Linked DNA regions of Homo sapiens: region 2 is linked to region 1. The links come from fine-mapping of genetic effects on gene expression. A gene starts in region 1. The other region holds a variant in brackets. All regions are shown on one strand. Distances are between the middles of the regions. Region 1 holds the start of TMC4 (transmembrane channel like 4). Region 2 holds the start of TNNT1 (troponin T1, slow skeletal type).

Region 1 (2,897 bases):
GCCGGCTGGAGTCAGCCCTGCGGGGGCGGCTGAGCCCAGGGGGCCAGAAGGCCTGGGACTGGGTGCACTGGTTCCTGAAGATGCGCGCCTATGACTACATGTGCATGGGCTTCGTGCTGCTCTCCTTGGCCGACACCCTTCGGTACTGGGCCTCCATCTACTTCTGTATCCACTTCCTGGCCCTGGCAGCCCTGGGGCTGGGGCTGGCTTTAGGTGGGGGCAGCCCCAGCCGGCGGAAGGCAGCATCCCAGCCCACCAGCCTTGCCCCGGAGAAGCTCCGGGAGGAGTAAGCTGTCACGACGCTCCCTCTGCCAGCTGGTCCCGGGAATTCTGTGAACCAGGCTGCTGTCTCCTCCCCAGAAAGAGTCCTTACCTTGGAGAGGGTCCTGGAGAGAATTTCCTCTTCCCCAGCTAAATACCCTGCCTGCAACTGAAGCAGACCCGGGGGTGTCCTCCCTGCCCTCTGCCCAGAGGCCACCTCCACTCCTACAAAATCAAAGTATTGTCCAGACAAGAGTCACTGGCCCCTGCTCCAGCTTCTGGGTATCCAGAGAGCACTGCACTTCCCCAAAACGGAAGGGGCCCCTGGGCAGTGGGTTTTGGGCAAATTCCCTTTCTTTGCATCCACAATGTGGGGTCGGAGCTTGGGGGCAGGTCCTGGGAGTGGGAAGCCTCTTCCTTGTGTCTTTCGCTCCACTTTTAGCTCATCGCACCAATATTGCAGACTTGGAAGGAAGCATAAGCTTCCCATTTCACAAAGGGGAAACTGAGGTGCGGGTGCGCGGGCCTGGGGACGGCCGTCCCATGGCTTCCATCTGAGCCACCTCGGGACCCCAGCACTCCTGGCGCCCTCTTCTCATCGCTTGGCCTATGACAGGTCACCGTGTGTAAATCTTTCCCAATAAAGTGTTGCACAAAGGCATCGTGTCCGTGCAGGTATCTGGGTGATAAACGGTGGGAAGGACTTAGTCCACCAAGTCCCAGGGTGAGGTACAGCCCCCCCGCCCAGCCCAGGAACCAAACTGTGAGGCCCGGGGCACCACGGGGACTTCAGCTCCCAGGAGACCTTTCGCATCAGCGGCCCTGAGAAACCACAGGAAGTGTACCTTACTCCCTCCGGGCCACCTGCTGGCCAGGTACACACCTGCCCCTGGCCCCTCCCTTACCTGGGGCAGTGTCTGCCTGGTGGCCACTAGAGACAGCCCAGCCTGGGGCCATGGAAGAAAACCCGACCTTGGAATCAGAAGCCTGGGGCTCCTCTAGGGAGTGGCTGGCCCCCCGGGAGGCCAGAGGAGGTAGGGAATGCCAGGAGAAGCTCAGATCCATCCGACCTTCAGGCTAGGTGGGAGTCCTGCTGGAGGAGGAAAGGGGAGGCCTGGCCTCCTGAGTCTGAGGGCTAAAGAGAGAAGGTTCCACTTCCTGATATTATGGGGGAGAAGGGAACTGGAGGCTGGAACTCCAGGGTCTGAGGAGGAGGAGCCTGGAGAACCAGGCTAGTCTGGGAGGAGGGGAGGGCTAAGGGCTGGGAGTTTGGGTGTCTTGGGAATAGGAGAGGCTGGGTTCCCACACTCCTGAGCTAGAGGGAAAAGGAAGTTAAAGCCTGGACTCCACTGCCCTGGAGTAGGAGGGTTCCACGCTTGGGGATGGAGTTGAGGGCTGTGGACCCCTGGGTCCAGGGGAAGTAGAGGCTGGCACCCGGACTCCTGGGCCTGAGGGAGGAGGGGCTGGGAACCTGGTTTCCTGGTCTGAGGGAGGAGGGGCTGGGTGCCTGGATTCCTATGTCTGAGGGAGGAGGAGCCGGGGGCCTGGACTCCTGGGTCTGAGGGAGGAGGGGCCGGGGGCCTGTTCTCCTGGGTCTGAGGGAGGAGGAGCCGGGGGCCTGGACTCCTGGGTCTGAGGGAGGAGGCGCCGGGGGCCTGTTCTCCTGGGTCTGAGGGAGGAGGAGCCGGGGGCCTGGACTCCTGGGTCTGAGGGAGGAGGAGCCGGGGGCCTGGACTCCTGGGTCTGAGGGAGGAGGAGCCGGGGGCCTGGACTCCTGGGTCTGAGGGAGGAGGAGCCGGGGGCCTGGACTCCTGGGTCTGAGGGAGGAGGAGCCGGGGGCCTGGACTCCTGGGTCTGAGGGAGGAGGAGCCGGGGGCCTGGACTCCTGGGTCTGAGGGAGGAGGGGCCGGGGACCTGGTTTCCTGGTCTGAGGGAGGAGGAATTAGGGCCCAGACTCCCGGGTCTTCCCAGCCCCCTGCTCCTCCCCAGGCCCATCGCTGTCTTCTGTGCTGAACGAGCTGCCCAGTGCTGCCACCCTTCGGTACCGAGACCCTGGGGTGCTGCCTTGGGGGGCGCTGGAGGAGGAGGAGGAGGATGGAGGAAGGAGCAGAAAGGCCTTCACAGAAGTCACCCAGACAGAGCTGCAGGACCCTCACCCTTCCCGGGAACTGCCCTGGCCCATGCAGGCCAGACGGGCACACAGGTGAGGCCCCACCTCCAGCTGGGACCCGCACAGCCCGGACCGGGCCCTTCTCCCATACCCTGGACTCGGTCTCCTCCCTCTGTCCTCTGCCGCTCCTGGCTTCTGGGGCCTCTCTCTGCCCCGCTCAGAGCTGCCTCTCTTGGTTTCTTTCTTCCCCTCATCTTTGTCTCTACTTCGGACTCCAGGTGAGTGCTGCCTTTCGATGGCTCTGGGGTCTCTTCTCTCTGGGATTTGCCGTCTCCCTGGTCTCCACCAATCCTGTCTCTGCCTCAGTTTCTCTCTGTGTGTGTGTCCAAAATCTGTTAATATTTATTTCTCTCTGCTTTATACCTTCCTTCATCTTTGCCTCCTCTTCCAAGCCTCCCTCTCTTTAACTTCTTTCTTTTCCCATTCTCACTGCATAATTTGCAGGGCCTGGTGAACAATGAAAATG
Region 2 (2,897 bases), 980 kb before region 1:
GGCAAAGACCCAAAGAGAGAGGGAGAAAATACCACAAGATGCATAGAAGGAAGTGCAAAGAAAGGAGAAAAGAGAGACAGAGATATACTCACAGCAAGGTGCAGAGACATGGAGACCCTATAAGAGATGGAAATGGAGAGCCACAGAGGGGGAACTGCGGGCACTAAGAGAGACATGGAGAGAACTAGAAAGATAGAGACGTGAACACAGACACAGAGACCCAGAGCCAAAAAGAGACAGAAATGGGGTCATAGGTGGACAGAAATGCACAGAGAGACTGTGAGCCCCCACAGACACAAACGCTGAGAGGGGCAGACATGCAGAGACACCCACAGAAATGCAGAGACAAAACCACCCGGAGACACATGCCGAGAAACACACTGAGGGGCTCAGAAAGCGACAGATGCAGAGAGAGCCCAAGACAGACCCAGCAAGGGGCCCCGAGAAATGCACAGAAACACAAAGACCGAGACCACCAGAGACAGAGGTACGGAGAGGCGGGGAGGGTGAGGAAGCCTGCTCTCCAGGGCTGGCTTGAACCTAGAACTCAAGGTCATGGCTTGGCTGGGAAGCGGGAGGGGGATACCAAAAAAGATCAGCGTTAGATGGAGGTGGGGAGGGAGGGTAGGTTTCACCCTAATTGACACCCCACCCTCCCCCTCCCCCTCCCCACACCTGCTTCCCGGCTTTAGTGCCTGTTGTCACCAGGATGGAATCCTGGCGGCAGACAAAGGGGTGGGGGTGGGAGGAGGAGACAAAAAGATGGACAGAGACAGAGGAGGAGACTAAGAAGTAGAGACAGACACACAGAGACACACAGATGGAGAGCCACAGAGACAACAGAAATGGGGGTCCAGAAAGAGACCTAGATAGAAAGAGGGAACAGAGAGAAGAAAACAGGAAACATTCCTTATAGCCCATGTGTCATTAGTAGGTCCTCCAAGGACCTACTGTGTGCCGGGCATGGGGACGTCAAAGCACAGGGAGCTATAAGGGAGGTAGTTGGAGCACCACGGGAGCCTGGGGTGTGGGGTGGGAGCAGGGGCGGGGCTCCTGGGCCATGCAGATGGGGTT[G/AG]GCATGGGGTTGGGGAGGGGCCCACGGAGGCTTCTGGACTCTGAGTGTGGAGCCAGGGGCAGCAGGGCTGTCTCTGAACTCCCAGGCTTGTGTTTGAGCAAAGGAATTCTCTCCCCCTCCCTCTCCCCTCGGGGCGGGCCCGAGCCTCCAGCTATAAACTCCCCGGAGCTTCAGTGCCCTCAGCAAGGCTCAGCCTCAAGATTCACAGCATCTCAGACACAGCCTAGGTAAGGGGCTCTGCGGAGCCCTGTGGTCTTCAAAAACCATGTCCTTGGGGGAGGGGGCAGGAGGCAGGTGGGGAAGATGTCGGGTGTGGAGAAATGGTGCAGAGGTAGGTGGGGCATACAACTGGAGGTCTGGGAACTTGAGAGGCTCAGACTTTAGGGGGACTCAGGATAGAGGGGAAAATACTAGGATTTGTGGGTTACACAAATCCTAACCCGGGGCTGCCAGGACTTGGATGTCCCAGAATAAAACCTCCTAGGATCTTGGGGTTCTGGGAATCTGGGGGAAATCTCAGCAGTCAGGGATATCTGGACTTGGAGGTCAAACAATCTGGGTGTCAGGATTTGGGGCCTCAGACTCTGAGGGTATCAGGAATTGGGGGGGTCTCAGAAGAAATTGGGGTTTTGGTAGTGGAGGGCTCGGAATCTGAGACATTATGATAGAAAGCATGAAAACTTAGAGTGCCATTATCTGGGGTATCATGAACTGGGCCTCCGAGTTTGGGTATCAAGATTTTGGGGGTCTCATATTCTTGAGGTTTCAGATTTTAGGAGGTCTCAAGACCTGGGGGTGGTCTTAGGATGTCCCGGCCCATATCTGGACTATCAAGAACTGGGATTTCAGAATCCAGAGCTGTGAGGACTTGCTGGCCTCAGAAACACGGGCATCATAAATCGGGGTCTCAGAATCTGTGGGTATTGGGATTTGGGGCTAGGCACCCTGTGGCCTAGGGTGTCTCAAAGACTTTGAGGTCTAAGAATGTAGGGGTCAGGGTGAGGTCTACGGACAGAAGGTGCCCTTTATGCCCCTGCCCCCTACGTGATGTATGGGAAGGTGAAAGGGGAGACAGGTGGGGAGGAAACCAGCCAGTGGGGTGGGGCGAGTGGGAGAGGGGATGCGGGTGACTAATTCTCCCAGAAGCCCCCCTTCCTCAAATCCCTTCTTAGGAAATGTCCTCGGTTTCACCATCTATGACATCCCCCCAAAATAGCTCCTGGGGGTGGGGCAGCTATTGTCTTCAGGCCACTGTCCCTTCTCAAATGCCTCTTCCTAATCCCAACTGGATCAGGTTCCCATGGACTTGTCATAAGACAAAAGAGGACAGCTGTGCTGAGGGGGCAGGGTCTGCAGCCTCCTGGCTGTGCCAGGACCACACCTACCAAGGTCTGTCCTCATGCATGCTTTAGGACAGCCGGCCCCCTCCCTCAGACCCAAGAGTCCAGACCTGAGCCCTCCTCCCTCAGACGCAGGAGTACAGGCCCCCAGCCCGCTCCTCCCTCAGACTCAGGAGTCTAGACTCCCAGCCTCTCCTCCCTTAGATCCAGGAGTCCAGGCCCCAGCTCCTCCTCCCTCAGACCCAGGAGGCCAGGCCCCCAGACCCTCCTCCCTCAGACCCAGGCGTCCAGGCCCGCGGCCCCTCCTCCCTCAGACCCAGGCGTCCAGGCCCCTGGCCCCTCCTCCCTCAGATCCAGGAGTCCAGACCCCAGCCCCTCCTCCCTCAGACCCAGGTGTCCAGGACAACCCATCTCAGTCTCAGGAGTCCACACCCACCCTCCCACACACCCCCCAGCCCCTCCTCCCTCAGACCCAGGAATCCG

Evidence for each region. PIP is the estimated chance that this variant, and not a neighbour inherited with it, causes the effect.
Region 2: its variant is fine-mapped to the expression of TMC4 in tibial nerve (GTEx, PIP 0.96).

The regions. Positions count from the first base shown.
Region 1 is chr19:54,171,437-54,174,333 of GRCh38, reverse strand. It overlaps TMC4 (transmembrane channel like 4), which reads left to right and starts at 1,174. Exons shown (of 15, transcript NM_144686.4): 1 at 1,174-1,295; 2 at 2,251-2,464. The coding sequence starts at 1,217. It overlaps MBOAT7 (membrane bound acylglycerophosphatidylinositol O-acyltransferase MBOAT7), which reads left to right. Exons shown (of 8, transcript NM_024298.5): 8 at 1-919. The coding sequence ends at 290. RefSeq lists enhancers at 1-234, 235-1,051.
Region 2 is chr19:55,147,565-55,150,461 of GRCh38, reverse strand. It overlaps TNNT1 (troponin T1, slow skeletal type), which reads left to right and starts at 1,256. Exons shown (of 14, transcript NM_003283.6): 1 at 1,256-1,301. The variant G/AG (reference allele first, on the strand shown) is at 1,075.